Regions from separate parts of the Homo sapiens genome. Here regions 1 and 2 are each reported to be linked to region 3. The links are microRNA targets in miRTarBase. Many come from high-throughput screens and were not tested one by one. Region 3 holds a microRNA gene; each other region holds the end of a gene's coding sequence.

What was found. The annotated mature microRNA hsa-miR-1321 reads CAGGGAGGUGAAUGUGAU and lies in region 3 at 3,131-3,148, opposite strand. An mRNA with a match to its seed (bases 2 to 7 or 8) in the 3' UTR can be bound and repressed. Matches are read on the target gene's strand: a 7mer-m8 pairs with bases 2 to 8, a 7mer-A1 pairs with bases 2 to 7 and ends in A, and an 8mer does both.
Region 1: miRTarBase lists DCAF11 as a target of hsa-miR-1321. Seed matches in the 3' UTR shown: 7mer-m8 at 6,530-6,536.
Region 2: miRTarBase lists ST7L as a target of hsa-miR-1321. Seed matches in the 3' UTR shown: 7mer-m8 at 4,331-4,337.

Annotation. Positions count from the first base shown.
Region 1 is chr14:24,122,900-24,129,899 of GRCh38, reverse strand. DCAF11 (DDB1 and CUL4 associated factor 11) reads right to left here. Exons shown (of 15, transcript NM_025230.5): 14 at 6,823-6,929; 15 at 4,658-6,725. The coding sequence ends at 6,591. Among named protein-coding and RNA genes, the nearest start is that of FITM1, 4.3 kb to the left of the region's middle.
Region 2 is chr1:112,520,006-112,527,005 of GRCh38, forward strand. ST7L (suppression of tumorigenicity 7 like) reads right to left here. Exons shown (of 15, transcript NM_017744.5): 15 at 3,509-6,106. The coding sequence ends at 6,008. It overlaps WNT2B (Wnt family member 2B), which reads left to right. Exons shown (of 5, transcript NM_024494.3): 5 at 275-7,000. The coding sequence ends at 504. Among named protein-coding and RNA genes, the nearest start is that of WNT2B, 15 kb to the left of the region's middle.
Region 3 is chrX:85,830,699-85,838,979 of GRCh38, reverse strand. MIR1321 (microRNA 1321) reads right to left here and starts at 3,200; the gene lies at 3,122-3,200.

The DNA of each region.
Region 1 (7,000 bases), not on the chromosome of region 3:
CTAGAACTACAGGAATGCATCACCATGGTTGGTTATTTTTTATTTTTTGGCCAGGTGTGGTAGCTCATGCCTGTAATCCCAGCACTTTGGGACCAGCCTGAGGAGCCACAGGAGTTCGGGACCACCTTGAGCTGGTCTCACACAGTGAGACGCCGTCCCTACAAAAATTAAAAAAATTAGCTGGGCATAGTGGCACGTGCCTGTAATTCCAGCTACTTGGGAGGCCGAAATGGGAGGATCACTTGGGCCCAGGAGGTTGACATTGCAGTGAGCCGTGATGGCACTATTGCACTCCAAGCCTAAGCAACAGAGTGAGACCTTGTTTCAATATTTATTTTGTAGAGACAAAGTCTCACTAAGTTGACCAGGCTGGTCTTGAACTCCTGGCCTCAGGTGATCTTCCTGCCTTGGCCTCCCAGAGTGGTGGGATTACAGGCATGAGCTACCATGCCTGGTCTCATTGTGGTTTTAAATAGTTGCAAAGGACATAATTTCTAGTGTATCATATACTGACATTTCAAAATAAATCCATTATATCACTGTTTCAAATGTATCCAATGAAATGTAAATACTACAGTGATTAGATACTTCACCTTTATCCATTAAAACATGACAAGATTTTACATCAGAAATTATATTTCCATTCTACTCCCTCACAGAATTTATCCTAATATGTTTTTATGCCTGAAAGTCTTTTATTGACCATTTATCACATTTCTCTGCAAGAAAAGTAACTCAAAAAATTTAATTTTTTGTTTGTTTGAGATGGAGTCTCACTCTGTCGCCCCGGCTGAAGTGCAGTGGCACGATCTTGGCTCACTGCAACCTCTGCTTCCTGGGTTCAAGCGATTCTCCTGCCTCAGCCTTCCAAGTAGCTGGGATTACAGGCGCCCGCCACCACCCAGCTACTTTTTTTTTTTTTTTTTTTTAGTAGACATGGGGTTTCACCATGTTGGCCAGGCTGGTCTCGAACTCCTGACCTAGTGATTCGCCTGCCTCGGCCTCCCAAAGTGCTGGGATTACAGGCGTGAGCCACCGTGCCCAGCCAAAAAATTTAATTTTTTATAGTTTCTGGGCCCAGTGTGGTGGCTCACACCTGCAATTCCAGTCCTTTGGGAGACCATGGCAGGAGGATCACTTGAGCCCAGGAGTTCTAGACCAGCCTGAGTAACATGGTGAAACCTTATCTATACAAAATATACACAAATTAGCCAAAGATGGTGGCACCCACCCAGCTACTCAGGAGGCTGAGATGGGAAGATCACTTGAGCCCAGGAATTTGAGGTTGCAGTGAGCAGTGATCACACCACTGCATTCCACACCACTGCACTCCAGCCTGGGCAACAGAGCAAGACTGTCTCAAAAAATAAAAATAAATAAAATAAATAAAATAGAAATGTCCTGTGACCATAAAGCCCTAAGAGTTAATTTTTTTCCTATGGATTCTATTTTCATTGTAACTGTTAGTAGTCTAAAATATATTATTAGTACATGAATACCTTAGTTTTTGGGGTTTTTGAGACAGGGTCACTTTCTGTCAGGAAAGTGAAACAGTCTTATTACTGACATGGAGAAAGTTTTAGTGGTCTGGGTAGAAGATTAAAGCAGCCACAACATTCTCTTAAATCAAAGCCTAATCCGGTGGCATGATTGCAGCTCACTGCAGCCTTGACCTCCCTGGTTCAAGTGATCCTCCTCTCGCTGAGCTGGGACTACAGGTGCAGGCCACGAAGTTTGGCTAATTTTTAAATTTTTTGTAGAGACAGGGGTCTCACTATGTTGCCCAGGCTGGTCTTAAACTCCTGGGCTCAAGTGATCCTTCTGTCTTTGCCTAAAGTGCTGGGATTACAGAAGTGAACCGCTGCACCTGTCCAGGAAAAGTTCTTAAAGGAAATTAAAAGGTACTACACTTCAGTGAACACATGAATGATACAAAAGTGAAATAGCCTTATTGCTGATATCAAGAAAGTGTTAGTGGTCTGGATAGAAGATCAAAGCAGCCACAACATTCCCTTAAACCAAAGCCTAATCTGGAGCAAGGCCCCAACTCTTTTTTTTTTTTTTTTTAAGAGACAGTGTCTTGCGTTGTTGCCCAGCCTGGAGTGCAGTGGCATGATCATGTCTTACTGCAGTCTCAAACTCCTGAGCTCAAGCAATCCTCCTGCTCTGCCTCCTAAGTAGCTGGGACTACATGTGCATGCCAACACTCACTATGTTGCCCACACTGGTCTCCAACCCTTGGCCTCAAGTGATCCTTCCATCTTGGCCTCCCAAAGTGCTGGGATTATAGGTGTGAGCTACTGAGCCCAGCCTATTCTCTTCAATACTATAAAGACTGAGAGTGGTGAGGAGGCTAGGAGAGGTTGGTTCATAATGCTCAAGGAAAGAAGCCACCTCCATAACATAAAAATGCAAGGTGAAGCAGCAAGTGCTGATATAGAATCTGCAGAAAGTTATCCAGAAGATCTAGCTAAGATCATTGATGAAGGTGGCTACACTAAATTACAGATTTTCAAAGCAAACAAAACAGCCTTCTATTGGAAGAAGATGCCACATAGAAGTTTCACAGCTAGAGAGAAGTCAAGGCCTGGCTACAGAGCTTCAAAGGACAGACTAACTCTTTTTATTAGGAGATAATGCACCTGGTAACTTTAAGTTGAAACCAATCCTCATTTACCATTCTGAAAATCCTAGGGCCTTAGGAATTATGCTAAATGTATTCTGCTGTGCTCTATAAATAAAACAACAAAACCTGCATGACAGCACATATGTTTGCAGCATGGGTTACAGAATATTTTAAGCTCACTGTTAAGATCTACTCCTCAGAAATAAAGATTCCTTTCAAAATATTACTGCTCATTGACAATGCACCTGGTCACCTACAAACTCTGGAGATGTACAGGGAGATTAATGTTTTCATGCCTGCTAACACAACATCCATTCTGTAGCCCATGGATCAAGGAGTAATTTTGACTTGCAAGTCTTACTTTTTTTTTTTTTTTTTTTTTTGAGACTGAGTCTTGCTCTGTCGCCCAGGCTGCAGTGCGGTGGCGCGATCTCGGCTCACTGCAACCTCCGCCTCCCAGGTTCATGCCATTCTCCTGCCTCAGCCTCCTGAGCAGCTGGGACTACAGGTGCCCACCACCACGCCCAGCTATTTTTTTGTATTTTTAGTGGAGACGGGGTTTCATTGTGTTAGCCAGGATGGTCTCGATCTCCTGACCTCGTGATCCACCCGCCTCGGCCTCCCAAAGTGCTGGGATTACAGGTGTCAGCCACTGCACCCGGCCAAGTCTTACTCTTTAAGAAATACATTTCGAACCCCGTCTCTACAAAAAATAACAAAAACGAGCTGGATGTGGGTGGTGTGTGCTGGTAGTCCCAGCTACTTGGGAGGCTGAAGTGGGAGGATCGCTTGAGTCCAGGGGGAGGCAGAGGTTTCAGTGAGCTGAGTGCACCACTGCGCCTGAGCGACAGAGCAAGACCCTATATCAAGCAAAAAAAAAAAAAAGAAAAAAAAAAACATTTCGTAAGACTGCAGCTGCCATAGTGATTCCTCTGATAGCTGTCGACAAAGTCAACTGAAAACCTTCTGGAAAGGATTCACCATTCCAGATGCCATTAAGAACATTCATGGCTAGGCACAGTGGCTTATGCCTATAATCCCAGCATTTTGGGGGGCTGAAGTGGGAGGATCGCTTGAGCCCAGGAGTTTGAGAACAGCTTGTGCAACAGGACGAAACCCCATCTCTACAGAAAACACAAAAATTAGCCAGGTGTAGTGGTGGGCATCTGTAGTCTCAGCTACTCAGGTGGCTGAGGTGGAGGACTGCTTGAGCCAGGAGAGGTCCAGGCTGCAGTGAGCTGAGATCATGCCACTGCACTCCAGCTTGGGTGACAGAGTGAGACCCCGTCTCAAAAAAAAAAAAACAAAACAAAACAAAATTTTTTTTTTCCCCAGAGTCTCACCCTGTGGCTCAGGCTGGAGTGCAGTGGTGCGATCTCAGCTCACTGCAACCTCCGCCTCCCAGGTTCAAGCGATACTCCTGCCTCAGCCTCCTGAGTAGCTGGGACTACAGGCGCCTGCCACCACACCTGGCTAATTTTTGTATTTTTAGTAGAGACGAGGTTTCACCATGTTGGCTAGGCTGGTCTTGAACTCCTGACCTCAGGTGATCCACTGCCTCGGCCTCCCAAAGTGCTGAGATTACGGGCATGAGCCACTGTGCCCAGCCTAAAAACAACATAACTTTTATATGCACTGGGAAACCAACAAAATTGACTCGCCTTATGCAATATTCACTTTATTACAGTGGTCTGGAAATGAACTCACAATATCTCCTAGGTATGCCTGTACAACAAACATTTTACATTACTTCGATAACATAAAATTATATTGTAAATGCATCTCTTACTGAGAATGGTCGGTCTGTGGGGCTTTGATCTAATGAAGCTATAAGGATACTAACAATTTGAATTTCTCTCTTAATTTGGTGCCCTGGAAGTAACACAGGTTCTGGGTGAGATGGGTAGCACCTTAGGTAACTTTATCACTTGGCAGACGGGGAATGAAAAGCGTGGATGGGAAAGGAGATCTGGCACGGGAGTTTCACACTAGGTAGATCAATTTGAGGAATGAGAACACAGAAGCCAAGGATCTGAACATTTATTTATTTATTATTTATTTTTGAGACAGGGTCTCACTCTGTCACCTAGGCTGGAGTACATTGGCACAATCACGGCTCACCGCAGCCTTGACCTCCTGGCCTTAGGTGATCCTCCCACCTCAGCCTCCTGAGTAGCTAGGACTACAGGCATGCGTCACCACATCTGGCTAATTTTTTTTTTGAGACAGAGTTTTGCTCTCGTTGCCCAAGCTTGAGTGTAATGGCATGGTCTTGGCTCACTGCACTCAGCTCACCTCTGCTCCCAAGTTCAAGCGATTCTCCTGCCTCAGCCTCTCAAGTAGCTGAGATTACAGGCACCCGCCACCATATCCGGCTAGTTTTTTTGTATTTTTAGTAGAGATTGGGTTCCACCATGTTGGCCAGGCTGGTCTCAAACACCTGACTTCAGGTGATCCACCTATCTCGGCCTCCCAAAATGCCGGGATTACAGGTGTGAACCACCGTGCCCGGCCTACTTTTTGTATTTTTTGTAGAGATGGGGTTTTGCCATGTTGCCCAGGCTGGTCTCAAACTCCTGGGCTCAAGCGATCCATCAGCTTTGGCTTCCCAAAGTGCTAGGATTACAGGCATGAGCCACCACACCTAGCTTGTTTATTCTTTTAAAACTGCCTATTTTGCCATGAAATAGGTACCCTTGCTGTGAAAGCCTGTGAACACCCCTGGATGTGTGTACCTTCATTTAAAAACTGCCTTAGAGGGCATGAAATGTCATCAGGGAAGATCTATTCCGAGCTGGGTGTGAGCTCTAGCCCTCTCCCTGACCATCGGTTTGCTCTGGGGTATGAGGTTCTGAGTGTGAGGCGCCCACTGGGGCCTGGCGTCAGGGCCGACTTGCTTCTCTTAGGCTCTGCGTTCAGGGGCTACCTCTTCCAAAGACTACACAGCTGCAGGCCCAGCCTCAGAGCAGAGGTGATATGGGTATTACCAGGCTCTAATGGAAAGTGTGCTCTCTCGATATCTACTTGCAGGGAAGCTTCTGAAATTGGTAAGGGAGCACCTATTGCAAGGCTCAGTGAACAAATGGTTTTGGTATTTCCCTTTTTCATGGGGCACCAGAAGGGTATTTTCTCCTACACAGGATCGCATCTGAAGACTTTGCTGAACTGTGTTTTCCTGAAGTGAGGAGATGAAAGACCTCAGATAGGAAAAACAGAGAGTGAGAGAGAGAGACAGACACTGAGCCAGGTTCCCACACAGTTTATTGAGGGAGCCAAAGCCAGTGAGAGGACGAAGGAGTCCTACTTCAACCTACTTCCTTAAAGCTGTGTGCCTCCAGCATGAAGGGACCTTCCCAGAGGGCAGGGCCTGCCCTATAAGGGGCCACATGAAGCCTTGTGGAGACTCCTGCCTCTCATACCACAGCCTGTCCTACCCTAAAGACCCAGACATGACAGCAGACATAATCCCCACCCCAGGAGGGTGCTGAGGAAACACCCTTACCCATGCCCCTCCCCTAGAGACCTCAGGAAGAAAGGCCAGGACACCTGTCCTGTGATTGGCCAGTTGAATCCTCAACGTGAAGACCTGGCAGGCCTGGCTGACAGGTCTGTTCAGATGTGGCCTCAGGCATCTACTCTAGGATCCAACCCCTAACATTCAAACATGATTAAAAACACCCAGGACACTTCTCTTGCTGGCAGAGGCCACACCCCAGATAATGGCAGTCCTGCCAAACTCTGGCCAGAGATAGGGACCCAAGCTGACTGGGTGTGAGCACGTAAGGAGACCACTCTGCCCCATGGGGAGAATCTTCCAGGGCTCAGCTGAGGCTCAGAGCCCAGGCTTATGTTATTCCCCATCAAATGCCAGTGATTCCTCCAAACATTCCCCACAAGGGAGAAAGGGAGGAGGAGGCAGAGAGCTTATCAAGAGGTTCACCCTATATGGGGCTGGAGGTTGGATCTACTGGGGTGAGGAAAAGGGTGTAGAGGATTGGGGCACTGGGGCAGGGGCGCTGGCACATTCCTCAGATTCTGGCATGTCATCCTGGAAGTACTCAGCCTGGCGGTACTGCCACAGACGCAGGTTCCCGTCCCACTGCAGGGCAGAGGGTGGCAAGCAGTCAGGATGTGCTGCCCCCACCCAAGTCCAAGCCCCAGACATGTGCCAGCACCCTCAACCCTTGCAACCTCACCGAACTGCTGACAATCTTCTCTTCAAAGGGGTGCCAACTGACGTCACGCACACAGGCCTTGTGGTTGGTCAGCTTCTTCACAATGTGGCCACTTAGAAGGTCGTACACTGTCCAGGACAGGCAAGAGTGGAGAGGGACCACCACAAGACATCTAAACTATCCCTCACCTCCCCATGAG
Region 2 (7,000 bases), not on the chromosome of region 3:
GGACTACAGGCTCATGCCCATGGCACCTGGCTAATTTTTTAAGTTTTTGTAGAGACAGGGCTTGCTATGTTTCCCAGGCTGGTCTTGAATTCCTGGACTCAAGGATTCCTTCTGCCTTGGCCTTCCAAAATGCTGGGATGATAGGCATGAGTGAGCCACTGTGCCCAGCCCAAAAAAGCGATTCTTTTTATCTTCCTTCTGAGAATGTGGTTAAGGGTATCCAGGGCAGCTGAAGAGATAACTTTGTTCTCACTCCCTCTCTTCCCCAACCCAGGTTCCCTAGGCACTGCAGGCCGTGTCTGCAGCAAGACATCAAAAGGAACAGACGGTTGTGAAATCATGTGCTGTGGCCGAGGGTACGACACAACTCGAGTCACCCGTGTTACCCAGTGTGAGTGCAAATTCCACTGGTGCTGTGCTGTACGGTGCAAGGAATGCAGAAATACTGTGGACGTCCATACTTGCAAAGCCCCCAAGAAGGCAGAGTGGCTGGACCAAACCTGAACACACAGATACCTCACTCATCCCTCCAATTCAAGCCTCTCAACTCAAAAGCACAAGATCCTTGCATGCACACCTTCCTCCACCCTCCACCCTGGGCTGCTACCGCTTCTATTTAAGGATGTAGAGAGTAATCCATAGGGACCATGGTGTCCTGGCTGGTTCCTTAGCCCTGGGAAGGAGTTGTCAGGGGATATAAGAAACTGAGCAAGCTCCCTGATTTCCCGCTCTGGAGATTTGAAGGGAGAGTAGAAGAGATAGGGGGTCTTTAGAGTGAAATGAGTTGCACTAAAGTACGTAGTTGAGGCTCCTTTTTTCTTTCCTTTGCACCAGCTTCCCGATACTTCTTGGTGTGCAAGAGGAAGGGTACCTGTAGAGAGCTTCTTTTTGTTTCTACCTGGCCAAAGTTAGATGGGACAAAGATGAATGGCATGTCCCTTCTCTGAAGTCCGTTTGAGCAGAACTACCTGGTACCCCGAAAGAAAATCTTAGGCTACCACATTCTATTATTGAGAGCCTGAGATGTTAGCCATAGTGGACAAGGTTCCATTCACATGCTCATATGTTTATAAACTGTGTTTTGTAGAAGAAAAAGAATCATAACAATACAAACACACATTCATTCTCTCTTTTTCTCTCTACCATTCTCAACCTGTATTGGACAGCACTGCCTCTTTTGCTTACTTGCTGCCTGTTCAAACTGAGGTGGAATGCAGTGGTTCCCATGCTTAACAAATCATTAAAACACCCTAGAACACTCCTAGGATAGATTAATGTAGTAAGTCTGGCTAGGCCTTGTGTTGCCTTTTTTTTTTTTTTTTTTTTCTTTTCTTTTCTTCTCTTCCCATGCACTATTCTGGAGGTTTGCCAGGTTTGGGGAGACATGGAGTAAAAGAAAGATAGGCAACTCATGGATGGTGGGAGAGCAGGTAAGCAGGTCTGATCTCAAGGGCCCACATGAGGCATCAGTATATATTAGGCAGGTAGGGATCTCTGGCTTTGGTAATTCTTTATGAGAGGATCCTAGCCTTTGAAGCTGGGAGCAGGAGTCAGTGGCTACAGTGGGAAGGAGTACTGCAGGTTGGGGCCAAAGTGATACACAGCTTAGAAGGCAGCCTTCCTCCACTTACTCAACAAATCTTTATTTAGTGACTCTCCAAGTCCTAGTGATTATTATTATTGTTCACTCCACATTTGGCTTAATGGGTAATGCTATTACCCATTGCCTAACTAGGTTTGCAGTAGTGGAATCTCCAGAGATAGCAGGCTTAGTAAGCTGGAGGTAGGACATGAAGTCCCCCAAAACTTGATGTCCTATTTTTATGTGAGTTGGACAGTGGTTATCTTTTGCCTGTTGATATCTTAAAGCAGCAGAGTGGTATAGAAATTTGCGGTTATGACAGACCCGGGTTAAAAATCACAGCTGTGCCATTTGCTTTGATATTTTGAGCAAGGTAGCTAAATTTTCTGAGCTTCTATTTTCTCATCTGTAAAATGAGGATACGTACCTGTTCTTTTTTTTCTTTCTTTTTATTTCTTTTAGAGATAGGGTCTCGCTTTGTTGCCCAGGCTGGAGTGCACTGGCATGATCATGGCTCACTGCAGCCTCAAATTCCCAGGCTCAAGCAATCCTCCCACCTCAGCCTCCCCATTAGCTGGGACTACAGGGCCATGCCATCATGCCCAGCTAATTTAAACATAGTTTTCAGAGATGGAGCTCACTATGTTGCCCAGGCTGGTCTTGAATTCTTGGTCTCAAGCAATCCTCCCACTGCAGCCTTCCAAAGTGCTGGGCGTACAAGCGCAAGCCACTGTGCCCAGCTGTCAGACGCTGAGTTTTAATTATGCACCAAACTCCAGCCCGCAGATCCTCTTCACCAAAGCCCCTGGCTGGTCTAGCCCATCATGACTTCTCTAGGAACAGTCCTTCTTTAGGACTATAAAGTATTAACAAAAGTCTGTAGATTAAGGAGCCTGCATAAAGAATTCTGGATACAGGCCCCTGTCTTTCCAAAGTTCCTCTCCAATATCCCTTGGGGTCCTCATGTTTTTGAAGCAGCTTCACTCTGCACAGGCAGCAGGAGGTTGGGGGAGCCATAGCTCTGGGCCACGGGGGCAGATTTATTTGGATGATAGGACTAATATTTGTGTAACCTGCTGAGACCTGTGTGGGAGAGTTTAGGGTGGTTTTTCTTTTGGTGAGGGGATTTGCTCTGGTTTCACATCCATTAACACAAAACATGAGCTAGTCAGGGCCCTTGTGGTCTGCGGTAAGGGGATGCCTGTGGAGAAATGGGCCTGAGTGAGTCAGGCCAAGAGAATGTCTTCCTTCAGAATGGAGTCAACTGGATAACTGATGAGCCAATGGTGGGATTAAGGAGGGGGAAATGGGAGGGGAAGAGAACAGCTGACATCTTGAGGAAAGCTTTGGGGTAGTGGAGAGGTAAGGGGGTCATGGTCAGTCTGAACTCAACAATAGGGCTGAATGAATTTACCAAAGGAAGCTGCCTTATATTATATGCCAGGCTGCTGGGGAAAGCCTCAGGTCCTGGCCAGCCCCTGTTCTCACAAGAACATGCAGGTTACCACATAAATAATGGCATATGCCTTCCATAGGACGTCAACCTGACTTAAATCTACCTATACCCTACTCTCTATTCTTTGGTTTTTGGTTCTCATCCCTGTGGAAGGAAATGGGCCTCTTCTGGCATCTCATGCTACTCTGTGCTTTTCCTTGGGCTCCAAATTCTAGCTCATAAAGATGCAAGTTTTGCAATTTCCTATAAATGGTTAAGAAAAGAGCAAGCTGTCCAGAGAGTGAGAAGTTTGAAAAGAGAGGTGCATAAGAGAGAAATGATGTCCATTTGAGCCCCACCACGGAGGTTATGTGGTCCCAAAAGGAATGATGGCCAAGCAATTAATTTTTCCTCCTAGTTCTTAGCTTGCTTCTGCATTGATTGGCTTTACACAACTGGCATTTAGTCTGCATTACACAAATAGACACTAATTTATTTGGAACAAGCAGCAAAATGAGAACTTTATTTGGTGCAGTCAGGGCTCCATTTAGTTCCCTCACTCTGCTTCTAATCACCCCTTCTCCCAGCCCTCTTCTATTTGATAGAGGTCTGTCCCTCAGATCAGCAATGTCTTAGCCCCTCTCCTCTCTTCCATTCCTTCCTGTTGGTACTCATTTCTTCTAACTTTTAATAAACATTTAGGTATAATACATTACAGTAAGTGCTATTTAGATACAAACTTAAAACATACTATATATTTTAAGGATCTAAGAATCCTTTAGAGAAGGCACATGACTGAAGTACCTCAGCTGCGCAGCCTGTAGCCAGTTTTTTTAATGTAAAAGTAAGAATGCCAGCCTTAACCTAGCCCTGCAGATAAAAGCTAACTTTTATTAATACCAGCCCTGAATAATGGCACTAATCCACACTCTTCCTTAGAGTGATGCTGGAAAAATAAAATCAGGGGCTTCAGATTAAAAAAAAAAACAAAAAACAAAAAACAAAAACAAACATTGCCTGGCCCTGAGGGTCTGTTTGCAAAACTTCTTGTAGATCTAATTTCTGAACACTCACTGCTTCATTTCTATTCCTCCTGTTGCAGGGAGTAATTTCTTCTCCTTTGTCTCACTTCCCTTATCAAGAACACCAACCAGTAAGTCTTTGCCAAATTCTCAGACCCACTCAGGACACGAGTCTCTACATGGCTTAACAGAAGAGAGATAATTAGGATTTTTTTTTCCTCAGTCTTTCTGAGGTTTTTATTTAAATGCACTCAGTGGTCATAGGGCAGAAGCTCAAGCTAGCTGGGGCGAAGGGAGGACGCCAGGGAGAGTATGTTTCTCATCCCTGGGAGGCATTCAGCCTAGCTCCTGCAGCCAAATTACAGCACCAGAGAACAATGTGATGCATTCCTGGGCAGGTCGGTGGGACCCTGGGCGCCTGGGCCTTGTGGAGAGAGGTGCCAGACACAGAGTTCTCCGTAAGCAATCCTGCAGAGCCGCCCCCTGGGTGCAGAAATGAAATACGGGAGAGCTTCACATTACACAGAGACCTGTAGCTCACACCTGGTTATTGATGGCCTTGGTGGAGGCCTCTGCCCCGACCCTCCACTTGGGAACTGCCTGCTACTACGGGGGTTGGGCATCTTTGAAGCAATGTTGGATAACAAGAAAGAGATGCTTCCTTTTCACTCTTTGCCCTCCCTGTCAGCCTGAGCACAACCATGAGGTTACACACACACACACAGAGGTGTACATATACAGACACATAGAGAACTTCTCTCAGGCTGCATAGGAGTTCTGCTCATCCTCCTCTCCCCAACAATTAAAAAAAAAAGCAATTAGATTTCGATCCAGTACTTCAAAAAGGATACCAATAGGGTCTGGCTTTAATCAAGGAATATCTACAAAGTCACATTACCAACCTGCAGGCAACTCTTTGGTTTGGGGACCAGAACTCCTCTGGTGGGTGGTTGGGGGAAGGATGCAGGAAGGGCATGGTGAGGAGAGATCAGTGGTGAAGAATTACCATCAAAGCAGAGTGGCTGAGACTGTATAAGTTCGCAAGGCTGGTTCATGCCAGAGATAGTGAGATGTGCACCCTATGTGCTGAGAATGATGGAGCAGTCTCCTATGACTGCATGGGGTATAACTGCCAAGCCTACTGCTCATGACCTGTGGTTGTTTTTAACTCTTAACTGGGTTAGAAAACTGGAGAGCTTTGGATTCCAGGGATGATCTCCATAAGAGAGAAGCACTGGAAAAGACCAAGTGGTGGCTTTATTAGGGTAAATATATCACAGTTGCTACAGTGAATTGAGCTTTCTCAGAAGCTATTATTTTCTTTGGGTGATTGGCAGGTATAGGGCAATAGCCAGTGGGGTGTCAGTAATATGCCCTGTCCCTGACCTCAAAGGTAAAGGGATAGAAAAGAGAGGGCGTTGACAAACTCATTTTCCCACTTCCCACTCATGGCTTATATTATCTCTGAGCATCTCGGTGGCTATTCCTCATTTACTTAAGATGTTTTAGTCATTCTGGATGTGCAAATGCAAGGCAAGCATTCTCCCACTGGCCCCCTAACGGTTAACTATCCTGGCTTAAAATTTTCCTTTGCTCACTTCCATTCTATGAGTATATCGATGGAGCAGCTGGACATTAGAGTTCTTTCTCTTTGACCAAAGGAGCCAAAATGCGGTGACTTGACTTCAACCCCAACAGCCCCTGTAAGTAGCCCTGGCCAAACAGAAAGGCTAAGCTGAATGAAGAAAAAAGGAAGACAATTTCATCTACAGTTGTCCTTTTTGACAGCTTCCAAGGGGGGTTTGCCTAGGAATAACAATATTCATAAGAAGCTTTTTCATATGCAAAATGCTTTAGCATATATGTAATCCTCACAACAACCCTGTGAGGTAGGGGTTACTGTCACTTTACAGATGCTGTTCAGAAAAATTTGGTGATTTGTCCAAGGTCACATGAACAGTGCGTGGCTCAGCCAGAACTCAAACCTAGGTCTTCTGACTTCAAATCCTGTGTATTCTCCTCAAAGCCTGAGGATGCCCAGGGTTGGGGGCACCAGAGTCCCAGCACCTTCAAAACAGAAATTGATACAAAATGTTCAAGCCCTGTAGGAGTCCCAGGACAGCCAAGAGAGTATATCTGAGCACAGTTTACAAAGGAACAGCCTAGGCCCTCCTGAACCTTATCAACCAATGGCTCTTTTGCCATTTCTGCCACTATTACCACCAGTACCATGTGACCACTATACAACATATTCCACATTTAAACAACTCTGGCTCCTAATTCTACTCCTTTTTTCCCCTTCAGATTAACATTAAAAATTTTATCTAGTCCTTTTGAAATTATGCTAAATGTATAGACACAGTAGAAGTAGTCATGACAGAAAATTATTAAGGCTTTGAAAATATGTATCAGAGGCCGGGTGCAGTGGCTCATGCCTGTAATCCCAGCACTTTGGGAGGCCGAGGTGGGGCAGATCACGAGGTCAGGAGATTGAGACCATCCTGGCTAACACGGTGAAACCCTGTCTCTACTAAAAATACAAAAAAATTAGCCGGGCCTGGTGGCGGGCGCCTGTAGTCCCAGCTACTGGGGAGGCTGAGGCAGGAGAATGGCGTGAACCCAGGAGGCAGAGCTTGCAGTGAGCCAAGATGCACCACTGCACTCCAGCCTGGGAGACAGAGCGAGACTCCGTCACAAAAAAAAAAAAAAAGAAGGTATGTATTAGAATTTTCTTTGAGATTTCACTCCTTTTAAAAATGACGTCAACTCCTGGGTTAGGAAAGCAAGATGAGGGAATAAGTGTCCTAAGAAACTCCCATCCCAAGCCAGACAGATGCCTACCCGTGGCCTGGCAAAGGTCCTGGGATCTCAAGCTGATGCAAGCAATTTGTGTACACCAAGGCAAGGGGTCTCAATCCTGCAGAGAAACCCATGAGATGAGGCAGACAGCAGATTTTCACT
Region 3 (8,281 bases):
GAATATTTGGTTGTTTTCAGTTTTATTGTTCTTTTAAGTAATGATTCAACAAACATCTCATACTTATATCTCTGTTCACATGCATATCTCTGGTAGATAGAGTCTTAGTGGTTGAATTACTGGTTTAAAGGGTATGTACACTTTACATTTTGATAGACTGCCAAATGGTACTTTAAAAAAGCTGATTTCCACTCACTGATACTAGATATTATTACTTTTTAAATGTCTGCCAATCTAATGAGCTAAAAAATATGGTATCATATTGTTATACTATGCATTTCCCTCCTTATACATCGAAACATATGTTCAATGCCAATTTTCAGTTACCTCTTCTATGATTTCTCAGTTTATGCCCTTGCCACTATTATAACTTGCAAAAATTCTTTTTATATTTTCATATTAATACTTCATTACACATATTGCAAATCTTTTTTTCATTCTAGATTTTAACTTTTATGGTGTGATTCATTACCTAGAAATTTTAAATTTTGATATAGACAATTCACTTAATATTTTCTTTTATGGCTCTGGACTTTGCATCTTGTTTAGAAGAGTCTTTCTCAATTCATTAGTAGGAAAATATGTCCCACATGTTGCTAAAACACCTGTGATGGTTAATATTGAGTGTCAACTTGATTAGATTGAAGGATGCAGAGTATTATTTCTGGGTTTGTCTGTGAGAGTGTTGCCAAAGGAGAATAACATTTGAGTCAGTGGACTGGGAGAGGCAGACCCACCCTCAATCTGGGTGGGCACCATCTAATCAGCTGCCAGCATGGCTAGAATAAAGCAGGCAGAAGAAAGTGGAATGAGGAGACTTGCTGAGTCTTCTGGCCTTCATCTTTCTCCTGTGCTGGATGCTTCCTGCCCTCGAACATCAGACTCCAAGTTCTTCAGCTTTTGGGCTCTTGGACTTACACCAGTGATTTGTGGCTCTCAGGCCTTTGGCCACAGACCAAAGGCTGCACTATCGGCTTCCCTACTTTTGAGGTTTTGGGACTCCGACTGACTTCCTTGCTCCTCAACTTGCAGATGGCCTATTGTGGAACTGCACCTTGTGATCGTGTGAATCAATTTTCCTAATAAACTCCCCTTCATATACATATGCATATATGCTAATAGTTCTGTTGCTTTATAGAACCCTAATACAATACCTTTAAAAAAAAAAAAAAGAAAACTTTTAGCTCTTTAACTGACCTGAAATTTATTTGGGGGATTTATGTGAGATAGAAATCTAACATAAAATTTCATATATGAATATCCAATTTTCCTCATGCCATTTTTTGAGATCATCTTTTTCACACTAATCTGAAATATTACCATTATCAATTATTAAATTCTTATACATGAAATCTGTTTCTGGACTATATTCAATGTTATTGCTATTTTGTCAATTCCTATACTAAGATGATGTTATTTTAATTACTGTAACTTTCGAACACGTATTGATACCTGGTAGAGTCAGCCTTTCTGCCTCATTTTTTTTTTTGTCTTAGTTATGCTTGGCCCTTTGCTCTTTCATATACATTTCGGAATCATTTTGTCAAGTTCCACACACATACACACGCAAATCCTTGTTGCAAGTTTGATTGGAATTGCATTCAATATTACTTCACTTTCCCATCCATGAATGGGAGGGTATATCACTCATTTTATTTAATTTTTTACTATGTTTTCTAAATAATATTATACCTTTTGGCAGACACTGATAGTGTCCACCAAATATCCATGTTCAGATCCGCATTTCCCACTCTACTTTGAAGATAAGTTCAGGTAGCTGGGCAGTTAAGAGCCAGTTTGCCTCTTGCATTCCTTTTTCTCCTTTCTATAACTAACTAGTAGTCCAGATGGCATTGCCACAGTTTGGAAGCTTCCAGGAATCTTGAGTCAGCTCTTAAAGGGAAGCTGTGCCAGAGAGCCACCTGACTCACATTAACTGTAACTGGAGCAAGAAATAAATTGGTGTTGTGTTACAACATGGCTATTTCAGGGATTATGTGTTACCACAGCATAGCGAACATTACCTGACTAATTAAAAAGTCTTGACCATCTTTTATGTATTCCAAGGCATCATATACTGTTTCTTAAACTTTTCTTTTATAATAATTTGCTGTTGATGTATAGGAAAAAAATTAACGTTATATGTTGATCTTGTAGCTAATAACCTTGCTAAACTCTCTTACTAATAATATATCTATAATTCTTTTTAGTTTTCTATGTTGATAATTATATAATCTGTGATCAATGACAGTTTTATTTTTCCTTTTCAATCCTATACATTTTAACTCTTTATCTTGTCTTACTGAACTGCCAAGGACCTCCAATACAATGCTAAACAGAAGTGGTGATACTAGACATACTTCTAATTTTCCTGGCTGTGAAAAAGGTAAGGTTAAAACAGTTCACCGTTAGTGTATGTTTATTGTAGGTTTTATTAAGTTAAGGGAGCTGACTTCTATTTCTAGTTTGCTAAGGAGCTTTTATCATGAATGGGTCTAGAATTTTGACCAAAGCCTTTTCCGCATCTATTTATTGACTGCCTACTATGGGCTAAGCACTGATCATGTTTTTCACTCCTTTCATCTATTAATGTAATAAACCATATTAATAGTTTTTAAATGTTAAATCATCCTTAAATTTCTCCTGGTGACATAGATGCTCCCACCTCTGGGTTCATTGTAAGCCTGTGTGTGTTGCCAGTGCATAGCATAGCTGCTGGCATAATATAGGCAAAATGTTTTACTCATGTTCCTTATTATTTTACTTAATAAATGATATATTTTATTACTGTATTTGTAATATTTCCAGTAGCAGAATACTATAAAACACATATCTTAAATAAATTTGAGTTAGAATAAGGCAGACATGCTCAACCAATCCCAAGAATCATATTGTATATTGTTCCACAAGAAGAGCTAAGAAAAAAATATTTAGTGATTAGAAAAATTATATCACTATCTCAGGTGGTTTTCTTAATTTCTTCATTATACGGTTTTAAGTGGGATTTTAGATTTCATTAATATAAACTCATAGGGAGCAATAAATAGTGGGAAGAAGAGAGATTTGAAGTCAGACAGACTTAGGCTTGAATCCTGTCTCTTTAACTTTCTTAACTATATATCTATCTTTGATCACATTCACCTCCCTGAGTTTATTTCCTTATTTGTAAAACAGGGATAATAATACTTGCTTCATAATGTTGCTATATTTGCATTAAGTAATCAAAAAATAATATAAAATATCTAGCATATTGTGGACCTTAAATAAATGTTAGTTCAAAAATGAGTATGAATAAATGAATATACATTTTTTCCTCAGAAAAATTTAATATGTCGAGAATTCTAAAAATAAAAAATCTATGAATGAGGTGTGCCCAGCTTTACACATCTCTGAATAAATTGGGGTTCTTTGTTTTGACTGTTTATCGGTGGTTGATAATTGTTCCCATTTAGAAATATATTATTAATGTCACAATGCAACAATTTGTGAAATTTATGTTATTAGTCTATATATTCTTACCTTTGGAACTACTGTTAATCCCAAATAGGTATCACGGCTCTATTTTTAAACATTTATATAACAAAACTATCAGTAAATATTATTCAGGGTTTAATTACGTTACTCTACTTTTTTCCTCCAAATAAATAGTTATTCTAATCCACTATATGTTCAGACATTCTCTCTCTCTCTCTCTCTCTCTCTCTTCCCTCCCCCTCTTCTTCTCTCTTGTTCATTTTTGAAGTAATAGAATTATCATTTTGGGGGAGAAACTTGATGTTCTCAAATGTGTTTGGAATAATAATGTTCTAATAAATAAATTTGAGTTTCCCAAACTTTTACATGAGAGTAAAGCACTAGAACCAAGGTCTCTATAGAGAAGAAGAAGCAAAAAGGGGAGAGTGTAGAGAAAGGATGAAAAAAGAAAAGGAGGAGAAGAGGGAGGAGGAGGAGCAAGGTTTCAATTAAGTAACTCAAGTGTAATGTGTGCCCCTCTCAGTTTCCTGTCTGCTGCCAAATCTAGGGAGTTGCTAAACTTCAGTGGTCTACCCCTGAAAATTTTTATTATTAGAGCCATCATTTTCAGTGAGTGGAATGAGGTTAGAAGCTATGTGGTCTCTATATTACTTGGAAAATATATCATTTGGCACTCCTCAATGACATTAGACTGTACATTTCTAGATTGATCTGCACAGTTCTTGTCAATTGGTAGGGATTCAATCTATGTTGAGTTAAACCAACTGAGATAAACTGCATTAAACCCTTTAATTTTACATAACACACCCACCACAGAAAAAATTTAATGGTAGTCCTTATCCCCAAATAATTTTCAAAACAAAGCAATAACAAAAACAGTCACTGAAGGGTAACTTATTGAAGGTATGAGAAGTTTTCATTGAAAATGCTCCCAAGTGACAGGCTTACAGTTCATAAATAAAGATGACAATGCAATGGCCCAGTATTTTAAAATCTTAAACACTTTTTTAGTGAAGGCCTGTGAGGTCATGTGAGCTAATATGACAGACACTGAATATTTACTACTCAAAAGCCATTCAGAATCCACTTCTCCCTTGCCTTCATCTACTATGGACGCTGTCTCACATGCAGATAAGAGTGATTATGTGACATGAAAGTAGCCAATACTGAGTATTCTTTGCCCCCAGTTGCAATTTCCTTTGGTGATATGAAAAATGTTTCTAGGTTCATTGTAATATATTAGCACAAAGTTCTTGTCTTGTTTGTTCCTGGAAAAAGTCTTTACAGTCCGTAAGTGCTGTTTTCCAAATTGTTCCCTGTAAGCAAATCAAAGAAAGCCAATCAAAATGACAATGTACATACTTTAATGTTAAATACAAAAAATCAGAATAAAAAATTATTAGTATATATCTCCTGATTTTGTTCACATACACATGAGCAAAGAAAAAATACTTGATGGAAATGAGGCTTATAGGAAACATATTAAAGTAGTAAACTCAAGGTAGGATTTGAAGTGATTTTTATTTTGTTAATTAGAAAATTTTTAATTGAAAAATAATTATATATATTTACGGAGTACAATGTGATGTTTTGATATATGCACACATTATGCAATGTTGAAATCAAGCTGATTCCTATATTTGTCACCTCATCTTAACTTTTTTTTTTGTGGTGTGTATTAGTCCATTCTCATGTTGCTGCAAAGATACTATGCAAGACCGGGTAATTATAAAGGAAAGAGGTTTAATTGACTCACAGTTTAGCATGGCTGGGGAGGCCTCAGGAAACTCACAGTTGTGGTGAAAGGGGAAGCAAACACGTCCTTCTTCACAGGGCTGCAGGAAGGAGAATGAAATGAGTGCCCAGTGAACAGGGAATCCCCTTATAAAACCATCGGATCTCGTGAGAACTAAGTCATTATCAGGAGAACAGGATGAGGGAAACCGCCCCCATGATTCAATTATCTCTGTGGGGACACAGTCAAACCATATCATGGTGCCAGCATTTAAAATCTATTCTCTTAGCAATTTTGAAATATTCATTATGTTATTAATAACGGTTGTCGCCATTCTGTGCATTAGATCTCAAGAACTTAGTCCTCCTATCTAACTGAAACTTTGTACCCTCTCACCAACATGTCTCCATTCCCCTCTCACCCACCTCCTGAGGCCCTGGCAACCACCATTCTACTCTTTTACTTCTATGAGTTTGACTTCTTTAGATTCCACATATAAGTGGAATCATGCAATATATGTCTTTCTGTGCCTGGCTCATTTCACTTAGCATAATGTCCTCCAGGTTCATACATGTTGTTGAAAATGACAAAATTTCCTCTGTTTTAAGGCCAAATAGTATTCCATTGTACATATATACCACATTATCTTTATCCACTCATCCATTGACAGATACATTTTGCTAATACTTTTTACATTTAACATATATCAAAAATAAGTCTTATTAATTTTATCATTGTAAAAACATACATTTTAATCTTTCCTATAATGAGTTAATGCTTTTAATTTAGATTTTATGTGTATTTTAATGTGAAGGGTTATGTGTTTAAGTCTCTTGGAACTATTGTGTATTAATATACAATAGGACACCATGTGTGAAAGTTTTTTGAAATCCCTATATGATTATTCATTGGGTAAGTAACAGGCCTACACCAGAACCAGTGTTTCAAAAGTCATATTTTCCCAAGATAATTTTAAGTGCCATGGCTAACCTACAAATCCAGAAATCAGCCCACTCTACAAACAAGGAATTAGAAGGGTGACAATTATACATAATGTTAGATCTCTTCATCTCTGTTCTTCTTCCCTATGCCCTCTTCTCAATCTACACACTCTCCCGGGGTAATTGCATCTTCTCCCATGGCTTCAGGTATCCTCTCTTTGCTCAGGACTCATATTTTACTGTCTATGGAACATCTCCACTTAAATGTCCCTGGGGAACACTCACACTTAACTCATCCAAAATAGAAAGCAACATCTCACAGCTTCCTACTCTCAGATTTTCTCTTCCTTCAGTTACTCCTTATTTTTTAATAAATGACACCCACCTGAAGCCAACCTATTGACCAGAACCAGAATCCTAGGAATCATCCTGTCATTCTTTGTATCTTTCCCTACCCTGTATCAATTTTTGGTAACAAATCCTTGTGATTTCTACTTCTGAAATTTTTCTTGAATATGTCTCCCTATTTCCATCCCAACTCTCTGGTCCAAGACATTATCATCACTCAGCTTGACCCCTAGAATAGCTTGCTAACTGGTCTGCTTTGCTTGCCTCCACTTTTGGTTCCCTATAATCCTTTTAACACAGTACAATCAGAACAATCTTTCTTAAAAAGATATGTAAATATAATCACATCATTTCTCTACTAAAAATATTTTAATGTCTTTTCAATCACTACTCCACCTAGGGTACCCCACTACCGTACCCTAGGTACCCTACCCCACTGCAGCCTATGCTCCAGTTATTTAGAATTATTTGCAGTTCATTGAAGATGCCATGCTCTGTCTTGCCTCTGTGTGTTTGCACATGCTATTCTTACTTTCTTGAATGCCCTTCTCTGCCTGGATATCTCTTACATAGACACTCACAAGTTAGCCAGGCACGGTGACTCATGCCTGTAATCCTAATGCTTTGAGAGGCTAAGGCAGGAGGATTGTGTGAGGCCAGTAGTTTGAGTTCAGCCTGAGCAACACAGTGAGGCCCTATCTCTACAAAAAATTAAAATTAAAAAATTAGCTGAGCATGATGGAATGTGCCTGTAGTCCTAGCTACTCAGGAGGCTGAGGTGGGGAGATTGCTATAGCCCAGGAGTTTGAGGTTATAGTGAGCTATGATTGCACCACTGCACTCCAGCCTGGGCAACAGAGTAAACCTTGTCTCAAAAATGAACAAGCAAACAAACAAAACCAAAACAACAACAACAACAACAACAAAAACAAAACCTCTCAACCATCACCTCTCCCAAAAGCCTTCCTTGTTACCCCCAGTCCAGGTTAAGTGCCAAATTAGGGTACATTCTCCATACCTTCATTACATTGCTTAACATTGGCACTGACTAGTTTTACAGGTTACTCTAATAGACTGGTGAGCTATTTGAGAGCAGAAACTGTGTCTCGGTCATCTCAGAGTTTCAGAGTTTTGTTCTTTTGAGTCTTTGGTTATGCATGTTTTACAATAATATATCTGCTCTTCTCAGCAAAGCTTCAGTTTCAGGTTTTTTCAATATCTTGCATTCTACAATTTTCCTTCCATGGCAACACAAAATCAGCTAAAAACTACCATTCTCTGAAAAATGTTGCTCAGAACTCAGAATACAGAAGTTTGTCTCCTTTCTTGGAATGAGAAAGAGAAAATGTCTACAAGCTATGAGAACAAACCCAAATTCATATGTCAATAAATGACTTTGTGATAGAATAGAGATGCCACTTAAGGAAAATAAACTGCTACTATGAGAAAAGCCTTGAGAGGTTCTCAGTTTTGACTTCTTTATTATCCTAAAGCAGGTCAAAATTCTCTATTATTTTCTCTAAAGCACAAAACACATTTGGTAGTAATTAAATTGTGCATTCAGAATTCAGTTCAAAATTAAGTAATTATAATAAAATAAAAATTATTTTGTTAAATTAAAATGGTTTGAATAGAAATGAAGTTTATTTATGCTATACGGGGCCTGGATTTGAAACATCTAGCATAACGGTTTTTGATTAAGAAATCTTAGAATTATAGGACTAATAAAAATATTCTTTTTTCAGATAAGGAATCGTTTCAGGATTGGTGTGGTGGCAAAAAA